3 linked regions of the Homo sapiens genome follow. The protein of the gene in region 3 interacts with the protein of the main gene of each other region in a biochemical or structural test. Each region holds a gene or a part of one and is shown on either strand. Other genes may lie near its edges.

Region 1 (8,428 bases), on a different chromosome or scaffold from region 3:
ATATTCCATGACTCTGGCAATGACTACATTATGCCATGTTCTGTCCTCCCCAAGTGGACATTTCTGAATGCTTTTTGAGGGCATCAGAGTTCTACTCTGGCCGTTTTCTGTCCTTAAGTTTCAACAATGACACAGATTTTAAAGTTCTTTTGTCTTAAAGACAGAAAGGAAAAGATGTATAAATCGGGTTATATAAAGAGTCGAGTTTTCTACAAGGCAAAGCATCTCATAAAGTCAAAAGAAGAAAAACAAACTGAGAAAGTATTTGCCACATTCACAACAAAGGGCTAACGATATACTTATGGAGAACTATGACAAACCAGTAAGAAAAAGACCAGCAACCATTAGAAAAACAAAGAAAATGAAGAAAATGACAAGAACCAATTATTCATGAGATGATATTTAATCTTACAAAAGGAATAATGAATATAAAAAATAAAACAAGGAGTTACCATTTTTCCTCTATCAGAGGCCAAAAAGTTCGAAGGCACAATGTTTGCAAGAATGTAGGGAAATGGATATGCTCAGTTTATGTACTTTTGGCAGTCATGCATACTGGTGCAACTTCTTTGACTTTATAGGCAATCATAGGCAAATTTATAAATGTACACACCCTCTTAAGAGGATGGTTTTATTCACTGTATTTTCTGTGATACAATTTGGATTTTTACCATGTACACATATTATTTTTTCAGTAAAAAAGTTAAATCATTAGGAAAACATTAATTCTCATTGACAGGAAGACCCTCCTTCCTATTCATACAGCAACATTTTACTTCCTATGTCACACCATGCAACAGCCCCCAGCAGCAGTAGGCCAGAGTTGTTTTCATGTCCCATATCCCAGCTAGGATTATTCCAGGGCTCTGAAGGCATCTGCTTAGATCTATCTATGCATTCATATTTTTTCCCTTCCTTCCTTCCCCTTATTTCAGAAATAATTCAAGAGGACTGATGATAACTTGATAAAGAAGCTCTAAAATAAAGCTGATCAAAGTAACATACTTCTTTGCACAATTCGTAATATTAAATTTTGATGAAAGGAAACTTAGCTTCTGAATTATGCTTAGTTTAATAATGTTGCACTTCCTGAATACATACATACTATAACAGCAGAAAAAGTTTTCCCAGAACATGGTGGAAGGTTGGGAAGTTAGCCAAAATTTAAAAGTGGTTGTGGACAAGGTACCCTTCAAACTGGGTTTAAGATTCCCTTCTGAGAATGAAAATTTGAAGAATCAAACTGTAAGAGCAGTAATCTGTAGCAATCACATAACAAAAAAGATTGCCTTTTAATATTTGATTAGCATTTGGGTAATATCCCAAATCCAATCAAAGTGATCCAGCTATAATTTTAGGAAAGCAAAACTTCCACATGACTGAACCGAAGAAACCTTAAACCTCATTGACTATAATATGCTCTTTTGGGAGGCAGAATTATTGTGGGTGGAGAGTGCATGATACATATGAAAATGGCAGGTTGGAAAGCGTTAGTCATGTGTCCCCAAGCAAAAGAGGTTTTAACCAGCTAACGTTCAGCCCACTTGGAACTGTTTACCCCCATGGAATGTGTGTATCAAGGAAGTGCCATTAAGGTTATTTAGCCTGTCCCTGGCAATGATTCCATGTTCCCTGTACTACCTTCCCATGTTTATTTGCCTTCTCACAGGCTACTGCAGTCAGCCTCACTGGATGCCATTTAGTCTCCTAAATCATATGGGGGATTTACGAGTCATTTAATTTAATGTCTTCCCAATACAGGAATGCACCTGCTATGGTTTGAATGTTTATGTCCCCCAAAATTCATATGTTAAAATTGAATCCCCAAAGCAATGGTATTGAGAGGTGAGGCTCTTGGGAGATGATTAGGTCATCAAAGTTTAACCCTCATGAATGGGTAAGTGCCCTTATAAAAGAGGCCTAAGGGAGTTTGTTCACCCTTTTCACCATGTGGGGATGCATCAAAAAGGTGCATTCTTTGAAGCAGGCAAGCTTCAACAAGCCGTCATCAGACACTGAATCTGCTGGTACCTTGATCTTAGGCTTCCCAGCCTTCAGAACTGTGAGCAATACATTTCTGTTGCCTATAATTACCCAGTCTGAGGCATTTTGTTATAGCAACTTGAAGGGACTAAGACACTTTCTGACTTGTCATCACCTTCTACTCCAGACCCACTATCCATGATCCTTTCAAAGAAACTTGTTCTACCAGTCCCCGAGTAAACTTTCCATCCAAGCTGTAGTCCCAGGAGAAACTCTTCAGTCCTTTTTAAGGCTCCTGAAACTCAAATCCACTCTTAGGAAGTAAATGGGTAATGTTCTCACGACTTTATTTGGCCTTAATTGGGGGAAAGGAAACCAATAAAACCATCACTTTAATTTCTTTATTCATCAATAGTATCCGAAAAGGAAGAATCAGGAGTTACAAAAACAAGTTAAATGCAATATAGAAGCCTACTAAATACAAATACAAGTTCACAAACACATATGCAACAGAAACTTGTTTAGATTGTTTCTTGAAGTTTGACTACTTAAAAACATAGGTGTAAAGGAAAGACATTCAGACTGGTCCACGTGGGCTTGTTAGCAGGCAGAGGAACCCTGCTTTCCAAAAACTGATATAGTCCAGAGTCACGGCATGTGGGAATGTTTCCATGGACACTGGATCTTAACAGATGCTATAGTGTTTACAAAACTACACACACAGAGAAAGCCCAAGGAAGCCTGCAGGCTAAGCCCTATGCTTTTAGAGGGCTGAAGGAACCAAACCTAGTTTAATCCTGTTTGTTTGCTCCATGCAAAACTTTATGGAAGACTCCCCAGACTAGGCTATTTAGCAGCTTCCATGAATGGTCCTCAGATCATGTGATTCTACGGCATAGACGACAGCTGCCCTATTTACACAGAAGCTGCAGAACTCAAGAGGAATGTGGATTTGCTCTTGGGAGTTCAATGTTGCAGGGTAGAGTAGTCTTGGATGATAACCATGTTCTAAATGACTAGTGAAGAGACACTGTGGTTTCTTGCTTTTAACAAATTGGTGTACTCTTGCCCTCCTCCCATAGTGTCCAAGGGCTGGTAAAACCTTTGATTAAGGCGTGCTGCTGTGAGTTCTCCAAGGCACTTGGACAGGGAGCTGCATTTCAGACTGAACAAGTGGAGTTTGAAGAGTTTTTAGATGGGATGGATACATAAAAGCTTGAAATGCTAAACAAAGTGGAATTTTCTCCTTTCAAATGAGAACAAGAAAAACTAGAAGGAATTCTATTTTTGGCACAACAGTTTCTCACAGTTGCCTGTGCATTACAACCTAAATAATTTCCTTCTGATGGTCTTTAATCTGCTTTCTGCAAATGAGATCTTATGTCAAGGATTTAATCTTTGGTATTCCAAATGCATCTGAAACAGGGTAGTGAGTGGGGTTAATAATCACAGAAGTCGAAAGACACAGGACTAACTGTAAATGACTGACCTCCCCAAGTCACAGTTTTAGGATTAAATCTCCATTTTCTTCCCCCTGTTGAATCTGAAACTTTCTTTTATCCTCATCTCTAAGGGAATGCTTTCTATTTCCAGCCGGAGGTTAAACATGAAATGCAAATATGAAGACAGAGTGGGGTGGTTCTCTTTCCCACTCTCTTCCTGCTTTACCCATGAGGACTCCATATCATAGCACGACCTGTAGGGTCATCAGGCTGAGATCAAATCTGGTCATCTTGTTTTTGGCCATCTGACATTTCTTGTTCTAGTAACAAGATTTCATTTATTCTATAGAGAAGAAGGAAAAATCACAGGAACCTATCTCCCCTCTGGACCAATGATCAGAACCACAGAATTTATAACTTATCAAATCAAAAGGTTAGTGCATTCTTACCAGCTCACTGAGGAAACTGAGGTCCAGAAAAAAGAAGAGACAGGGCCAACTCACCCTCCTAGTTAGTCGAATGAGCATATTGGTAGGCTGGGATATCCTAAGCCCTGCTTGGCTGCCCTTGTCGCCATCCTTGGGAATACTGATTTGCCTCAACTTCTCAGAATAAATAAAAACAAATTAATGTTTGGATCTTGAAAGTTTTTTATGAAGATGCTTCTTCCCCTGGCTTCGGTCTAAGGCACCCTTGCTCCTCTGGCAGATAGTGGACTGCTGGAAGCTAGGGGGGCCAACTATGGGCTGCATCTAGTATGTGGCAGGGTGGGGGCATCTGGGTTATTTCAGCCCCTGCACCAGGAAGAACCCCAAACTCCTTCCACCTATGAAGTGGTGGGACTACTGAAAAATAATTACAAAAGCTTAATACCTAGTCAAGAAAATAAAATATTAAAAAACAATAATATAATGATAATAATTGAAGAATAAAGTCAACTTGCCAAAAAAAAGTGTTTTACAGAGAAATAGCACCTTTGGTAAAAAGTATTTTTAAAATTTGGTTAGGTCGCTAAGGGGCTCAAAGTATACAAGTATCTGCATCATTTGGGTGTACCCTCCCAGAAACTCCATCCAAGTCTGAGGGACACTGGGTTAACTAGCAGTATGGCTATGTATCTAGAGGCAGTTATTGGGACCAAGAGATGCGTGGATGCTGGAGGTCTGTCATGCTGACGGCAATGGAAAGAGGCTGGAAGCAGAGAGCGTTCCTCTCCGTGGAGCTTCCCAAACCTCTCCTCCGGGGACACCCTGCTAAGTTCTCTCTGGCATCGTGTGCACTCCCTGCAGCCTGCTGACAGATGCAGTAAACTCAAAAGAGGTTCAGATTTGGGTCTGTTCCTCTTTCAATCGTGATGCAGTTTCCTTACTAGCCTCCAGCCCCAGAGCACCATTTACAGTTTCTCTTAAAGCACTCCTAGAAATGAAGGCTGTGGCCCTTCCCTTCCTAGCCAGCCACCTTCATATCCTTTATTGCAAAACAAATAAACAAAATAAAACTCATTGCTATATAAGCAAATACTGGTGATTTGGCGACTGTAGCAGACACTTGTGTATACTGAACTCAGCGCTGAAGTGGAGAAGATGCTGGGATCCAGACACTGGTCTGTGCCTCCTCATTAGATCTCTTTGGTGCTCACTCTCTTGGTCTTTTCAGCTGTTTCCTTTGAGATGCAAGAGAAAATAGGCGTCATGGAAATATTAAACAACTGTTGGAATTTATCTGTTCCTCAAGACTATATAGCATTGGCATTTACAAGCTTATGCTGAATTTTAGTTGTTTACTTGTCGGGCTCCTCCACGGACAATGAACAATTTGAGAACAAGAACTATGGCCTATTCATGACATGGTCATGCAGGGGCTGTTTACTGAATTAAGCTGACTCCATTTGGACTCCTATGAAACAAGCAGATCAGACATTATGGTTCCCATTTTAAGGATGAAGAAAATGATGTTAAATGGAAATGCTACAAGATGTTCTTAATCCAACAAGTCCAAAGAAGTGTTAAGTACAACAGGTTCTGGAGGCAGACTGCCTGAGCTTCAACCATGGCTGTGCTACTTTTTGGGTGACCTTGGGCATATTATGAAATCTTCTGTGTCTCAATGTCTTCAACTGCAAAACCACAGTAATAAAGTACCATCTCTTACAACAGTGCCTGGCACAAAATGGCCAATAAGGACATAAGAAGATGCTCAACATCATTAATCACACGGGAAATGCAAATCAAAACCACTTGACACCCGCTAGGACAGCTAAAATAAAAAATAGCAATAACAAAACCGTTGGTGAGTATGTGAAGAAATTGGAACTCTATGGTGAAGATGTACAGTGGTGCAGTAGCTTTGGAAACCAGTTTGGCCATTTCTCCAAAGGTTAAACATGGAGTCACCGTATGACCCAGCAATTCCACTTCTAGGTAAATACCCAAGAGAGCTGACAACATGTGTCCACACAAAAACTTGTGCGAAAATGTTCCTAACAGCTTTATTTATCAGAGCCCCCAAATTGAAACAACCTAAATATCCATTAAATGATGAATGGATAACACAACATGTGGTATATTCGTATCATGGAATATTACTCAGCCATAAATAGGAAAGAAGTACTGATTCATGCTGTAAGAATGAACCTTGAAAACATTATGCTAAGTCAAAGACAGAAAAGGCTATACTGTTGTATGATACCACTGTAATATGTCCAGAACAGGCAAATTTATAGTTAGAAAGTAGATTAGTGGCTGCAAAGGGCTGGAGGAAGATGAGAATGGAGGGTTACTTCTAATGGGTATGGGATTTCTTTCTGGGATAATGAAAATGTTCTGGAATTAAGATAGTAGTGAGATGATTGACAATCTTAGGAATATACACTTTAAAGGGGTGAATTTTATGGTATATGAATCATATCTCAATTAAAGAAATAAATTTTTAAAACCTGACAACATTGCCTGATATCTAGCAGACACTGGTGTTCCATCCATCGCCCCTTTGTGTTTAATGTCTTGGTGTACACTGGCATGACTTCCTACCTACTGCCAGCACCTGCATCTCTGCCTGAGGCCTTTCTCTGGCTGCTGGAGCCCACTCTGTCCACACACACTGATAGGCCACAAATGCCAGGGAATTAACATTTCCCAGTAGCAGCCCTCAGCCAATGGCTAATGGGAGTTCTTGTAGAAACAGCCCAGCTTCATCCCCACTCAGGCACTGTTATTCCATTCCCAGAGATCCCCAATAGGATTAAGAGTCACTTGTTAACAGTGGTAACATGCCTGAATACACACTCTTCATTACTTCCTTCTCTTTCTGGACTCATTTCCCAAATCTCCCTCTGGTGTTTCCTGGCATTGCTTCCCAAATAAACTATGTGTACTTGCATCCTTGCCTCAGCATCTGCTCTGAGGGGACTCACATCAAACACAGAAACTTAAACATATTAGCTACTATAATTCACTCTGTACTGTCTGATAACTGTACTGTCTGATATTCTAGACGAAAGTAATTCCTATGAAGTTTTTTTCTCTTTCATGGGATTGAACTCATTTGGAGACTCAAGACTGGTGAAATTTGAAAAGCAAAAGACTAGAAGCTTTTGCTTCTGCTTAAACAACCGACATGAGATTTCTATACTATCAGTGACAATGATGACAAAATGCACATTAAGAATGATCAATAAATGGGCAATTACTATTAATAGTAATAGTTCTGTTTACTCATGTCAAATATTTCATATCAATAGTTTAGCAGTTCTTGTGACCATTATATTCCTTAAAAACTTCTATGTCAGAGAGAAGGCTAATACTACTACATTCGGTCTACGGACAGGTAATGGAAGGTGCAATATCCTGTATTAAGACTACATAATAAGCCAGTAGGAGGATGGGCCAGGAGTTCAACAGTTCCACAATATGTCAGAGCATCACTATTCTGCTAAGAACCCTTTCCCCAAGGAAGCCTTTAACTTAATGACATAGAACCTGAACAAAATTCTTATTATCTTCTTGAGTCTCTGGGAAGGAGACTCTTTGTTAACCCCAGGCTATTTTCTAGCCAGACTGATGTTGAACTTAAATCCTTTCTGCTGTGGCCCAAATCCACTGCTTTCATGCTCACTGAGTGCTGACTACATACCAGGCCCTGTGAGACTGCAAGGGTACAATGATGAGCAAGTTACAGAGCCTGCTTTCAGGAGCTCACAGTCTTTGGGTCTGGACACTGGTCATGACAGGATACACACTTCCTTAAACCACGCTCATTTGCAAACCACTTCCACCTCATTTGCAAATCACCACCTGCCTGATTTTGCCTTATGCAGCCACTCACCGAGCTGTAACCTATATGTGTTGAGACCTACTGGGCCCTGTGAGGACTTTATCAGGGAACTGTCTGTATCACAGTTTGATAGTACAGGTGATGGGGTATCACTCAAGATGTACTGTATTGAGCAGAGAGAGCCTCCTTGGTCTCCTGGGGCACTGGGCAGTGTTTGAATGGTATAGGGCCTGATGGCAACAGCAACACCTGAACCAGCACGGAGGCTGCCACTCACCTGATGCTTTTGGAGCTCCTGGACATATCTGGTCATCTCCTCCTCTGTCTGGGTCTGGGCCCCCTTCTGATTCTTTCCTGCAAGAAGAACCAAAGCTCAGAGCAGTAGCAGCTGTGGTAAGCCAGTGAGGAATCCGCCAAGATCTACCTAGAGGCTCTCAATTCATCTCCCATTTAACTTGTGGAAGGAGAGGTGAATTACCCACATTTTCTGAGTATGAAGGCATGAAGGGGCCCTGTGTAATTGATACCTCCAAGGTAACACATTGTAACAAAGCAATCTACCCCAACTCCTCTCTGGCCTTTGTTCCTTTAACTGCTTAGCACATCCCAGCCAGAAGCTGGCCCTACAAAAAAAGTTATGGTGAAAACTTGGATCCTGACACTGGAGATTTCTCTGAGACAATGACTCTCAAGTCATTCATATACCATCAAAATGTCCTGGAGAACATTTG
Region 2 (8,428 bases), on a different chromosome or scaffold from region 3:
TTATAACCATAGGCCTATGCTCATGTGAGCTTGGCATTTATACCATCCTGTTCTCTGGTAAACTAAGTTGAGAAATTAAAGTGGTTCCAAATAGTTAATGTCCTAGGGAGATTGGCAGAAGGCAGAAATATAAGTTACCTTTGAAAGGTTGCCCCTTCAAACTTGGCCTCAAAGTAGTCCAACAGAAAAGGCCCCACTGAACATAAGCTCAGTATTCAAAATTCTAAAACCACATGAGGAAACAGTACCATGAATAAAGTCAGAAATAACAAATGTCAGAAGCAGACTTTCAAGAAGTTAAATTACAGAATTCTAAGAGAGATTTGGAAGTAGGCCAAAGTACAGAAGTATCAAAATTGACCAGGAAGTTTTTTTTTAATAGAACTTCTAGAAATGAAAAAATAGAATAATTGAATTTATAAATTGAGTAGAAGAACTAAACAACAGATTAGACATAGCTAAAGAGAGAATTCGTGAATTGGAAGTTGATCTTCAGGAATTACCTGTAATGGTGTTTAGACACAGAATTGGAAATTAGGAAAGGAGGGTTAAGAGACTGGGCAGAATAAGAAGGTCTAATATGCTTATAATAGGAATTTCAGAATCATAGAATTTGGAGATGCAATATTCAAGTTGATAATAGCCAAGAATTTGTCAGAATTGACAAAAAACACAAATCATTAGACTAAAGGCATAGTGAACCCCAAATAGTATAAATTTAAATATATACTTAGACACATACCTTGTAGTGAAACTGCCAAGAGAGAAAGCAGCCAGAAAGAAAAAAACAGAATATCTGCAAAGTTAAATTAATAGCAGACTTTTCAGCAACAGTAGTGGAAGCTAGAAAATAGTGGAATAATATTTTCAGAGAGCTGAGGTAAAATAACAATCTAAAATTTTATGTTCATCTAAATTGCCATTCAGGAAGAAAGACAAAACATTTTGAGAAAAGCAACAAAGGCTCCTCTGCCAAGAGATCTCTACTGAAATATTTTTTTTCAGTAAGGACAGTGATCTCAGAAAGAAAGGCAGAGATGCAGGGAGAGATGACTGTATGGATGCTTACAAAATATAGACACAAATAATGTCTGATTTGGGAGCTGGGTAGTAAGAACAGTGACACTAAATACGGAACACAAGCAATATGTTAAATTAGATGTACATTGGAAGAGTCATTAGAGTTTAAAATATTTAAGTTCCAATGAGGGATGGTAGAGATGTTGATTTAGGCTTTTAGTATAAGTGTACCCATTAAAGTTTATAGGCCTAGCTTACAACGGAATAGGAATGAGATGTATAACTTTAAAAGTGGCTAAAATAGGAAATTTTAAAAGATAATCCAAATAGAGGTAACGGTAGAAAAGAAACAAATTTAAACATACCCAGTAATCATATATATAAACATACCCAGAAATCATAAATGTAATGAGACCGAACTCTAATTAAAAGATGGTGTTAGATTGAATTGGGGGGAGGGAAGAGAGAAAGATTTTTTGTTTAAGTTAGAAAAGGTAATTTTCTCTAATACTAACACACGAAATGTCATATAGCTATGTTAACATCAGATAAAATGGACTTTTTGGCAAAGAGCATTCATTACAAATGAAGAGGGTTACTATATAGTAAGAAAAATTTTATTACCAAGAATATATAAAATAATTTCTGTAACTCAAAGGAAAAGTAATCCAGTAGAAAAATGAGAAAAGATACAAACAAACAGTTCTCAGAAGGAAATGTTAGTAATCACAAGAAGATGATCAGTCTCACAAGTAATCAGGGAAATGCAGATCCAAATTGTGTACCATTTCACACTCACCAGGTGAACCCCAGGTGGGGGCTGTCATCTGTTGGGAACTTGGATTGGCACATCCACTTTGGAGAACAGTTTAACAGTATTTAGTCAGTTGATCTTTAGACTCTATGACCTAGCCAAGAAACGCCCACACATGAGTGCACACACACACGCACACACACAAATGTAAAAAAGAAGTCATGATGGCATTGCTGAGATCAACAAACATAAATAACCTGAGTCCAGTAGGTGAGTGGATACTTAAAGTTATGTGAGGTTATAAGCTTCTGAAATAAATGCACTTCAGGGCTGCAGGAGAGGCAGCAGTATATAAAGAACATGCACTCTAGAGACAGGCTGCCTGGGGTTTGAAGCCTGATTTTGACACTTAATAAGTAACTTGGGTAGGTTACTTAATCTCTTTGTGCCTCAGTTTTTATAAAATGAGGACCTGCACAGGTTTATCGTGAGGATTAAATAAGTTACTCTTTGCAGAATGCTTAGAATAGGACCTGGGATGTAGTGTGAGCTGTATAAGTGTTAAATTAATGCATATCAACCTGGATGGCTTACAAATATATGGATGAAGGACAAAAAGCATATGTATTAGAGATTGTATTTGGTTGCTAGAAATAGTCAAGAGTTATTCTCTTGGGTAAAAGAAATGCAAAGACACAATGTTGGAATATTTTGGGTTTTTTTCTCCCCTATTGTACATGCCGCTCCACAGTGTGCATACACGTGTGTGCATGTGTCAGTGTCTTTATCTGTTATACACTCCAGCCTTCCTTCCTGGCCCCATCTGTCTCTTCAGGTTCCCTCCATCTCTACACCCCAGCTGCCCTTACTCTGCTGCTGGGGAGGTGGTGGAGATGCTGCTTTGTGGAGCTGGGGGCTGTGGAATCATAACATGGATAAGTCACTGCTCTTGGCCCTCCTTCGCTCTTATGGAGGGACCTGCTAGGGCTATAAAGGCAGCTGAGCAGACTCAGGGCTGCCTTTCGAGGGGTGCTGTCTGTGGGGAGAGCTGCCTTTCCTCTCTGGGCAGATGTGAAGGCTGGACACCAGAGGGAGAACACTGGCCCTCCTGAGATGTTCTTGCTTGTCTTCCTCTTGGGCATGGAGGCTTCTGGCAGGGTGTGCCTCAGTGTGCTGGCAGAAGCAGACCTAGATAGATGTAGTGGTGAGTGGCACTCCTTCTCACCTGGTGAGTGGCACTCCTTCTCACCACTACAGTGCCCACAAGGGTGGGGCTGGGCACCTGCTCCCTGGGGTAGGTGGCTGCCAAGGGGCCTCCAGGAGCCAACTGAGCAGTGGTTCTGCTGGCTGCTGGGGTCACAGTTCCTCTAGGAGACACTGGCTGGACTGGGGACACCCAAGTGCAGAGCTCAGGGACTCCAGGGGAGGTGGGCATGGACACTCCACCTCTGAACCATCTCCTCTTCTTTCTCTCCCCATTGCACTTTGAGCCCCTCACAGATGGGACCTTGGTGAGGTTTCTCCCTTTTCTCCTCAGGGCATAGTGGGTATGTCCAAGGCCTACTGGACTGAGCTGCTTCATAGGAGAAACGAACCTCCCAGTATTTGACCTCCCAGTGCGTGTCTTCGAGCATCCAAACTAGCCGGCTTAGGTTCTGCTACCAGGAATGTTGGTTCAGAGTGCAGTCTGCATGTACTGTGTGTGTGTATGTGCATGTACTGTGTGTTTGTGTGAGGGTCGGGGGTGGTGTATGTGGGAGTGGTCCTGCCAGGAGGGATGGTTTGGGGAGCACTGGGTACTTTCTCTCTACTGGCATTAGGCCCCTTGGAGCATAGGGACTGCCCCTTGGGGACACTGCCACTTTTATTTCAGCTTCCTTTGGAGGCCAGCAGTTGGTTTGGCTGTGACTCAGGGATGCAGCAAGCCCCTTGTCCTGGTGTCTGGGGGCCATGCTCACTTACCTCAGGGCTATGAAGCAGCAGGCCTAAGGGGGTACCATAAGCACCCGCATCTTGGGAGCATGGCTTCTCCTCCTGCCAGGTTAGGCGAGTGGGCTGGGGGTCAAGGGGAGCCTCCTGTGCATGGATGCCCTGGCTTCCTGGGTGTGGGTGGGAATCTGTATCTATTAAAAGGCAGAGGTGGCCTGTGGTTGGAGTATTGCCAGAGGCTATAAATAGCTGAGTGTGTGAAGAAGGAGAGTCTGGGGAAGAGAGAGGAATGGGGGAGGCCCCTGGGTCTCCAGGTGGCAGCAGAGCCCTGTGGTGAGGGAGGGGCATGGGCTCTGAACATAAAGCTCTTGTAGGCATGGTGTGACTTGATGGGCTGGGAGTCATACAGGGGACTTGTGTTATGAGGGATTGTCATAGGCAGTAGGGGATGGTTGTGGCTGTAATATAGCCAATGTGCCAGGCAGTGTTCTAACCACTCTTAAAGTGCATTAACTCAATTAGTTCCTACAACTACCCTAGCTGTGAAGTATTGGAGTAGGACTTGAAGTCTGGCCCGCTCACGGCTGCCATTTTTCGCTGGGTTGCCTGTAGGAGGATCTGGTCAGATGGGGGTCAGGTGACATCTTTTTGAAATGGAGTCTTGCTCTTGTTGCCCAGGCTGGAGTGCAATGGCACGACCTCAGCTCACTGCAACCTCCGCCTCCTGGGTTCAAGTGATTCTCCTGCCTCAGCCTCCTGAGTAGCTGGGATTACAGGTGTCCGCCGCCATGCCTGGCTCATTTTTGTATTTTTAGTAGAGACCAGGTTTCACCACATTGGCCAGGCTGGTCTCGAACTCCTGACCTCAGGTGATCTGCCCGTCTCAGCCTCCCAAAGTGCTGGCATTACAGGCGTGAGCCACCGTGCCTGGCCCAGCTGACATCTTGAACCCTTGGGTCCTCTGAGATTTGGAACTCCCAGCCTCTTCACTTGGGTACTGCCCATGGTAGTGGCAAGTGGGTGGTCCCTGACTTATCAGTGGCCTGGAGAGAGGAGGTTACTCTGTTGGCCTCCCTTGTTTGGGCTCCTGCCTCAGCACAGAGGCTTGTTGCTTGTCTGAATGGAGATGGAAACTCTTTGAGGACCTAGGGCTTGGGCTGCAGGCTGAGGCCATCCTTGTTGTCCCCTCCTTTCGACATGTTGCTCTAGCCATGATACCTATACCCTTCTGTCCTTCTGTCTGTCCACCCATCCATCTATGATGTGTTTGGAATGATTCTGCCACTTAGGACGGCAAGGGTCCTGCCTTTGTCGGCTTTCCAGTCTTGTGGGGAAAGCCTGACATTTAGAAAGTAGTTGTCGAGTACATGTGTAATGTTTTATTTCTCATACAAGTGTTCATTGTGTTATTTCCTCTTGAGATTATTTTTGGTTATATTATTGGTACACTTTTTGGATGTCTGAAATAATCCTTTAAGCAACAACAGGCCATTAGTCAAGGGTGGTTAAGTTAGGTGGCAGGGGAAGCACAAGGGCCAGTGGAAATAGAGAGTTTGCCTGGTCTCAGGGGAGAGGGAAGAGCCGAAATCAGAGGAAGGTGGGTAACCTTACGGCCAGAGGTGGTAACTTCCGACTTACGCTAAGCCTAGAAGCCAAACACATTCAAGGGTGTGACATTATGGTGTGGCTGCAGTGAGGGGAGGAAGGTAGGGGAGTGCCCAGCTTCCCTGTCTGCAGTGCAGCTTCATGGCTGGCCCCACAAGTCTCAGGTCTCCACGGACCCCCACTAGAACTGCTGCCGTGGATGCAGTGGGGCCCAGCCTGGGGAGAGGAGGCCCTGTGGCCTCTGGGCAGGGTGCTTCGAATAACCCAGTAATTGGGTGCTGCTGCAGGCAGACAGGGACAATGTAGGTGCAAGCCTCAGTCCTGGCCCCGGTGTGCTTGTTCAGCCTTTGGTCTACTACCCCCACCCCACCCTCTCAGGTTCTCCCTCTAAACCTTAAAGCCACATGCTTGATGAAGGGCCTGGCTGGGGAAGCCAGTGTGTACCCTTGTAAGCCTCTCTGTGGACCCTGAGGCCCTTCCTTTAGAAGAGGCTGAGTCCCAGCTGACTGACTGGTCAGGAGGCCATGCATTTTCCTTTCACAGGTGTCAGAGCCTAGGCCACCTGGTGCAGGATGACCAGAGCTGTGGCTGGGCACTGCCATTCTGATTGGGTGACATTTCGGACCCTTAGGTGCTACCTGGATCCTTGAGATTCGTTGCTTGCTCCTGCCCCTGGAAGAAGCATCCTGTCACTTCAGGGAGTTGCAGAAAGGGGTTGGGTTTGACAGGAGAATGGCCGCTCCAGTGGTGGGGGGCTTCTTTCACCTGACAGCCAGTCAGTATCCTTCTCTCTGGGGTATACCCTGGGAAATCAAGCTCTTTCCTCATGAAGGCCAACAGTAGGGGTGGAGATGAGCGTGAGGATGTCCTTAGGCTACGCTAGTGTTCAGGGTACTTTGCCCTCCCCCAGGGTCAGGGCAGGGTTCGTGTTCTTTCCTACTCCAGTCAGCCTTTCAGGCTGATGGCGAAGTAGGGCTCTTGGCTGCTGGTGGGCTGGCTGTCTGGTGGGATTGACTCTGACCCCTCCCTCCTTCCTGGGATGGGAATAGTGGTAGGAGAAGACCAGCCAGGAGTGGTGCCAGGTCACTGGCCTATGTGGGCCCAAAAAGTGTGGATAGGATGGCTGGATGCTTGGTGCAACTATCCTCTCGGGTGTCTGTGTGGGGTTCTGGCAGTGAGGTTGTAAATGCCACCACCTGCCTCCATTGTGGGCGGCCTATAATGGGGTGCTGGCAGAGCTCTCAGACAGAACCGAACCTCCTTTGGCATCTCCATACTCTTTCCTATGTCAGGGCTATGTGGTTCCTGCGGGTAGTGGGAGTAGACTGGGGCTGGGACTGGAGGTTGTTTTGTAGGGGATGGTGAGGAAGATGGATTTGGGGAATGTTTGAAATCAAGTTTGAAGGAAAGTGTTTGAATGGGCAGGTGGGGGTTGAAGTCGTTGTCCACCTGGATGGCACTTCCTGCAGCAGGTGGAAGGGGGTTCAGAAGTGATGGGGAGTGCCCTGGGGTCATCAGGAGCCTAGCCAGGAGAATGATCTGTGATTGCAGGTTAAGCCACCAGCTAGCTCTCCTCTGCCTGAGGCATGTATTCCCCTTGGTGACTCTGGGAGGCTTACCCTGTACACGCAGGCCTCATTCCTTAAGTTCTCCAGCCCTGCCGAGCACCAGGTGTGGTTGCTGGGTGTAGAAAGGACACTTACAGGGTCCTTTCCATTCCGTATGGGCAGGGAGTTGTGGAGGACCCACTGGCATGGTCTCCCTGGGGAACTGTTGTGAGAAGGGGGCTTGGGGGCAGAGACAGGAGCAGCAGGAAGCCACTCCCCTTTGTAGTTTTCCCAGGTGGTCCTTGAGATCTTTATCACAATCACCTGAGACAGACAGGGGTGATTAAAAGCACATATTCTGCCCCCATTCCCATTGGGATGGGTCTGGATTGGGCCTGGAAATACGTATTTGAATGAACACTGCTCCCCTTTCCCACACCTGCAACATACAGTGATTCCGATGTGCACTGGGGTTTTAAGGGGGCCTCTTCATCGGTTTCTGCTGCAGCAGGGAAGTAGCCCCCACCCCCACGCAGGAGCCTCAGGTGTTGGTGCCCTTTCTGTGCATCTGGACTCTGTCTGTCTGGCTGTTTATCCATCCTTCTGTGGCATTAGGTTTCCTGCCTCCTCCCTTTTGCTTAGGCCTAGGGGCAGCTGTGATGGGCTGCAGAATGAGGTGGGGGCTGGTGCCAGCTGGCACACGTAAATTAAGAGGTGTGGGACGGATGGGTGGCCTACGTCCAGGGGTGAGTGCAGGAGGTTGGTGACCCCAACCCACCACCCGGCCTCCCTCCCTCAGGGTGGCCTGGCACCCAGGACTGGGAGTAGGGGTTTGGGTGGTGGTCCCAGGGGCATGCTCAGTGGTTCTCTTTTCTCTGGGGCACAGGCTCTGGGCGTGGGGAGGCTGAGACACGGGAGTGCATCTACTACAACGCCAACTGGGAGCTGGAGCGCACCAACCAGAGCGGCCTGGAGCGCTGCGAAGGCGAGCAGGACAAGCGGCTGCACTGCTACGCCTCCTGGCGCAACAGCTCTGGCACCATCGAGCTCGTGAAGAAGGGCTGCTGGCTAGATGACTTCAACTGCTACGATAGGTACCCCAAGACTTGCCCTCCTTTCCTCTTGGACCCACCTGCGCTTATACTGCCCACTGGGCCATTTGGGTCTCAGGATGTCTGAGTGGGAGATAAAGGACCAAGAAGGGGCTCTTGAGATGGTAGCCATGGCCCCACGCCCTTCCACACCCTATTTGTCCTACCTTAGCCCTGAGGAGGGGTCTCAGTGTCAACCCCTGGCTGTTCTTCCTTGGCTTTGGGTCTCCTGTAGGGGAGGTGAGTTCACACCGTCCCCCTGGTGTTGCCCATGAGGTGCTCTGTCTGTGAGGAGGGGTTGGCAGGGCAGGCCTGGGGGAGTCTTGCATCCCCCAGGTGAGGGGTATATGGAAAATTCTGTGCCTCCAGGCAGGAGTGTGTGGCCACTGAGGAGAACCCCCAGGTGTACTTCTGCTGCTGTGAAGGCAACTTCTGCAACGAACGCTTCACTCATTTGCCAGAGGCTGGGGGCCCGGAAGGTA
Region 3 (5,229 bases):
GTGTGGTCTTACAGTTCCCAGAATCCCCTCCTTGAGGAGCTGCTAGAAATGCTGAATCTCAAGCATCTCCCCAGACCTACTGAATCAGAGCCTGCATCTGAAGCTTTACGGTGTACAAGCTGTTTTATGTGAAGGCTGAAGTTTGAAAAGCACTGCATTAAAGCGTTAGTTTGGTATAAACTGCCCTGACTGAACTTGGTGTGTCCACTTAGCTTGCATGATGACTGTTGCTTTGATGATGAAGGCTTACACGGGTAGATCCTTTGAGTGAGTGATCTGACATGATTCTCCTTTGCTAAGGCATCTAGATTCAGTGCACAACTTACAGCTGTTTGTCTTTAGGGGAAATACAACTGTAAAATTAATAAAAACATAGTCTCTTCTTATGATAACATGGAACGATGGCAAAATAGATTTTGTTAGCACTTGGGTAGGAATTCTGAATGAAGCAGGCAAATTCTGTTGGCAGTGAAATGATAGGATGTGGTAAAGTTAGAATAAAATAAACTTAAATGTCTCAAACTCTCATGGTATATACTACCAGTTTAATAATAATGTTGTACCTTTGATGATTTGCAGACTACAAGCATTCAAGGTGCTGTGTTATATATTACTTGCTTGGAGAATAATACTTCTTAAAAATTGAAATTCAGAAATTTTAAATCAGACAAAGCTTTTGTGCATGGCCCACTTAAATGGCTATTTTGAAATAATGATAGTGGATATAGAAGGATTATTCTGTAATAGGATGAGACTGTTCCTTTTGTCATGGAGATCATAATCATATTTTTGTAAATTTTTATTATTTTTTTGGTTTTGTGTCCATCCTGCACACTATTACTGGGTAGGTACATGGTTTTTTAACATGGTTTATCTTTCAAAACTATAAAGGCATTGCAAACAGAAGACAGGTCATTTATTTTTCTTCCAAAAGCATCTAAAATGAGATTTTGATATTTGAGGTCATAAAGAGGTGAGAGAACAGACAACAGTTGGGAAAGCTATTTCTCTTGAAATTGTTTGGCCTTAATTACTACAGTGTCCTAGTACCACCCATACGTTTCCAAAGAAGTAGATCCCTGTAAATGCCTTTGTCTCTGGACTTTTGAGTAAAATAGTAGGGTGTGCTTTGCAAAATGTCATCGTTGATGTTGAGTTTCAGAGTCTTTAATTAGGAAGCTGAAATCTGTATATCGAGATTTGTAAATCATCTAAATTGCAGAGTAATGTTTTAGAATACTGCTTAAGGGATTGGCATTAAAGCCTTTTTTAAAAAAGAAATGCAATAATTTCCTCAAATCCTCACTCATTAGACCTCTACTAACTATAGTGCTGACTTTTTTTTTTTTTTACCCTAAAGTCTGGAATTCCAAAGAAATGCTTCACCATTTCCCCCATTATTATAGCCACCTGGAAGCAGTATTCATGTATTAGATCAAAAACACAACAAAGAATTATGAAAGGTTGTTTCCTGGTATGCAATGCATGATGACATGAACTTACAGAACAGAGAGAAGGGAGGCTCCATGTTTATTTAAAGAGGAAATTTTTATTTTCTGGTTACCTACTTTTACATGGGTTACATCAAATCCCACGATGAGGTTTAAAAATTCTCATAGATAATCAAACGTCATTACTTGGCTTACTGAAATTCAGACTTTTCTTTTTTCTTCCCTGTTTTTCTCTATCAAATTAGAATCTTTGGAAGAACTACCAGAAACGAGTGGGAAAACAACCCGGAGATTCTTCTTTAATTTAAGTTCTATCCCCACGGAGGAGTTTATCACCTCAGCAGAGCTTCAGGTTTTCCGAGAACAGATGCAAGATGCTTTAGGAAACAATAGCAGTTTCCATCACCGAATTAATATTTATGAAATCATAAAACCTGCAACAGCCAACTCGAAATTCCCCGTGACCAGACTTTTGGACACCAGGTTGGTGAATCAGAATGCAAGCAGGTGGGAAAGTTTTGATGTCACCCCCGCTGTGATGCGGTGGACTGCACAGGGACACGCCAACCATGGATTCGTGGTGGAAGTGGCCCACTTGGAGGAGAAACAAGGTGTCTCCAAGAGACATGTTAGGATAAGCAGGTCTTTGCACCAAGATGAACACAGCTGGTCACAGATAAGGCCATTGCTAGTAACTTTTGGCCATGATGGAAAAGGGCATCCTCTCCACAAAAGAGAAAAACGTCAAGCCAAACACAAACAGCGGAAACGCCTTAAGTCCAGCTGTAAGAGACACCCTTTGTACGTGGACTTCAGTGACGTGGGGTGGAATGACTGGATTGTGGCTCCCCCGGGGTATCACGCCTTTTACTGCCACGGAGAATGCCCTTTTCCTCTGGCTGATCATCTGAACTCCACTAATCATGCCATTGTTCAGACGTTGGTCAACTCTGTTAACTCTAAGATTCCTAAGGCATGCTGTGTCCCGACAGAACTCAGTGCTATCTCGATGCTGTACCTTGACGAGAATGAAAAGGTTGTATTAAAGAACTATCAGGACATGGTTGTGGAGGGTTGTGGGTGTCGCTAGTACAGCAAAATTAAATACATAAATATATATATATATATATATTTTAGAAAAAAGAAAAAAACAAACAAACAAAAAAACCCCACCCCAGTTGACACTTTAATATTTCCCAATGAAGACTTTATTTATGGAATGGAATGGAAAAAAAAACAGCTATTTTGAAAATATATTTATATCTACGAAAAGAAGTTGGGAAAACAAATATTTTAATCAGAGAATTATTCCTTAAAGATTTAAAATGTATTTAGTTGTACATTTTATATGGGTTCAACCCCAGCACATGAAGTATAATGGTCAGATTTATTTTGTATTTATTTACTATTATAACCACTTTTTAGGAAAAAAATAGCTAATTTGTATTTATATGTAATCAAAAGAAGTATCGGGTTTGTACATAATTTTCCAAAAATTGTAGTTGTTTTCAGTTGTGTGTATTTAAGATGAAAAGTCTACATGGAAGGTTACTCTGGCAAAGTGCTTAGCACGTTTGCTTTTTTGCAGTGCTACTGTTGAGTTCACAAGTTCAAGTCCAGAAAAAAAAAGTGGATAATCCACTCTGCTGACTTTCAAGATTATTATATTATTCAATTCTCAGGAATGTTGCAGAGTGATTGTCCAATCCATGAGAATTTACATCCTTATTAGGTGGAATATTTGGATAAGAACCAGACATTGCTGATCTATTATAGAAACTCTCCTCCTGCCCCTTAATTTACAGAAAGAATAAAGCAGGATCCATAGAAATAATTAGGAAAACGATGAACCTGCAGGAAAGTGAATGATGGTTTGTTGTTCTTCTTTCCTAAATTAGTGATCCCTTCAAAGGGGCTGATCTGGCCAAAGTATTCAATAAAACGTAAGATTTCTTCATTATTGATATTGTGGTCATATATATTTAAAATTGATATCTCGTGGCCCTCATCAAGGGTTGGAAATTTATTTGTGTTTTACCTTTACCTCATCTGAGAGCTCTTTATTCTCCAAAGAACCCAGTTTTCTAACTTTTTGCCCAACACGCAGCAAAATTATGCACATCGTGTTTTCTGCCCACCCTCTGTTCTCTGACCTATCAGCTTGCTTTTCTTTCCAAGGTTGTGTGTTTGAACACATTTCTCCAAATGTTAAACCTATTTCAGATAATAAATATCAAATCTCTGGCATTTCATTCTATAAAGTCCAACCTGTAAGAGAAAATGGTGCATTTGTATAGCGCTTACAATGATGACCTTGTGTTTGCATTTTTGTTTCTGAAGTTATATATTTTAGAGGGGGTGGGGGAAAGGTAATGAATGGCTGGAAAATTGCAGGCAAGTTATTTGATAAGTCATATTTGCACTAAAGGTGTTACCAGTGATTTAGTATTTTTCAAATGAACTTCTTTGGGGCAGAAAGATTTAAGGGAAAACTAAAGCCTACAAAACAAGCAAAACCTGGATAACCCGAGATAAAGTTTCAGAGATAATAGCCCATGCAACAGAGGCAACGGTGCCAGAAAATTAGAAAGGGAAAGTGTCGGAGATCAGCTTCTATAAGAACATCTGCCAGTTGGACTGACGCCCAAACAGAATGAAGTCAAATTAGGCTGCTCAGATTGAACACTTACCAGAGTGTCAGGGCTTCTGTACCCTGGGTTAGAATCAGACCAAGGAAGGGTTCAGCAGATGTTCATAAGAGCAGGGCACCCACAACTACCCACTATTTTACTGGCAGTATTTTAGGTCAGTTTCCAGGACTTTGCATCCCCTCTGATCCTGCCATGCATGATTGGTGAAACCTACCTCTAATCTCCTTGGAATTGGCTAAAAAACAGTGTGTTTATAATGGAACAGACTGTTATAATCAAATTCTTCCTAGGAATTAACTTTTGATGACTATGAGCTTAGTTACAGTTCGGAGGTTATGAGGTTATGTAAACCTTATCTTTAAATGTGCATGACAGTTATCTTTTACTAATGCTGGTTAACTTTTAAAATCTTGCAGCTCCTTTTTATCTCTAGTTCTATTGTTCTTGATTAGGTGAGAACCATTAGATCATACCCAACTGAGGGGATTGGGGTCTTGTTTGTTCTCCAGCTGTTCTTCACCCTCTATTGCCATGGACATGAAGGACAGACTGCACGGTCTTAACATGTTAAAACGAATGACCCATGTTTTCTCATATTCACATTCTCTAGATGAGAGCATGAGAGTATAGCACAAGAATTTCATCCTTTGGCAGTTCCATCCACCCTTTTGATTTCTCTGCTTCATTGGTTCTAATATTCTTGGTTAAAACTGTTTTCAATGGTGTCGACTAAAATGTGTTATCTTGCATATGCGTATTTAATATATAAAACATAAAATACATAAATATACATCTAAAGATGTATGTAATATGTAGTACATATGTATAGATGCTGGCATTTTCAGTTTAGTTTCAGAGATTTTATAATCAGACACTCTGACCCTCTTGGAAGCTCACATGAGAAACAATATTTTTACAAACATCCTACATTGTTACAGACATTTTAGCTCACAGTCTTCATTCCGAGGAATAAAGAGTCAAAATGAACATAACACTGAATGTCTTTAATTGCACTCACTATTCTATAGGATCCTTGGAATCATTTCAGAGTTGGCTTTAAAAAGTCCACACATAGTCATTTCTGAATTTTCAGGGGCCCGCCTTTCAAAATCGGTTAAACTGATCAT

What was found. Proteins that work in one complex are often made in the same cells at the same time.
Region 1: the proteins of BMP2 (region 3) and FSTL1 interact in a biophysical measurement, tested with the Homo sapiens proteins (one study listed by IntAct).
Region 2: the proteins of BMP2 (region 3) and ACVR2B form a complex in vitro, tested with the Homo sapiens proteins (one study listed by BioGRID).

Annotation. Positions count from the first base shown.
Region 1 is NC_000003.12:120,391,909-120,400,336, forward strand, and holds the end of FSTL1 (follistatin-related protein 1 precursor), read right to left. Parts: intron 8,052-8,428; coding exon 7,975-8,051; intron 5,089-7,974; coding exon 5,044-5,088; 3' UTR 385-5,043; downstream 1-384.
Region 2 is NC_000003.12:38,469,546-38,477,973, forward strand, and holds part of ACVR2B (activin receptor type-2B precursor), read left to right. Parts: exon of another isoform or gene 1-1,995; coding exon of another isoform or gene 1,996-2,044; intron 2,045-7,741; coding exon 7,742-7,949; intron 7,950-8,315; coding exon 8,316-8,425; intron 8,426-8,428. UniProt on the Homo sapiens protein: Transmembrane serine/threonine kinase activin type-2 receptor forming an activin receptor complex with activin type-1 serine/threonine kinase receptors (ACVR1, ACVR1B or ACVR1c).
Region 3 is NC_000020.11:6,776,549-6,781,777, forward strand, and holds the end of BMP2 (bone morphogenetic protein 2 preproprotein), read left to right. Parts: intron 1-1,696; coding exon 1,697-2,541; 3' UTR 2,542-3,698; downstream 3,699-5,229. UniProt on the Homo sapiens protein: Growth factor of the TGF-beta superfamily that plays essential roles in many developmental processes, including cardiogenesis, neurogenesis, and osteogenesis. Induces cartilage and bone formation.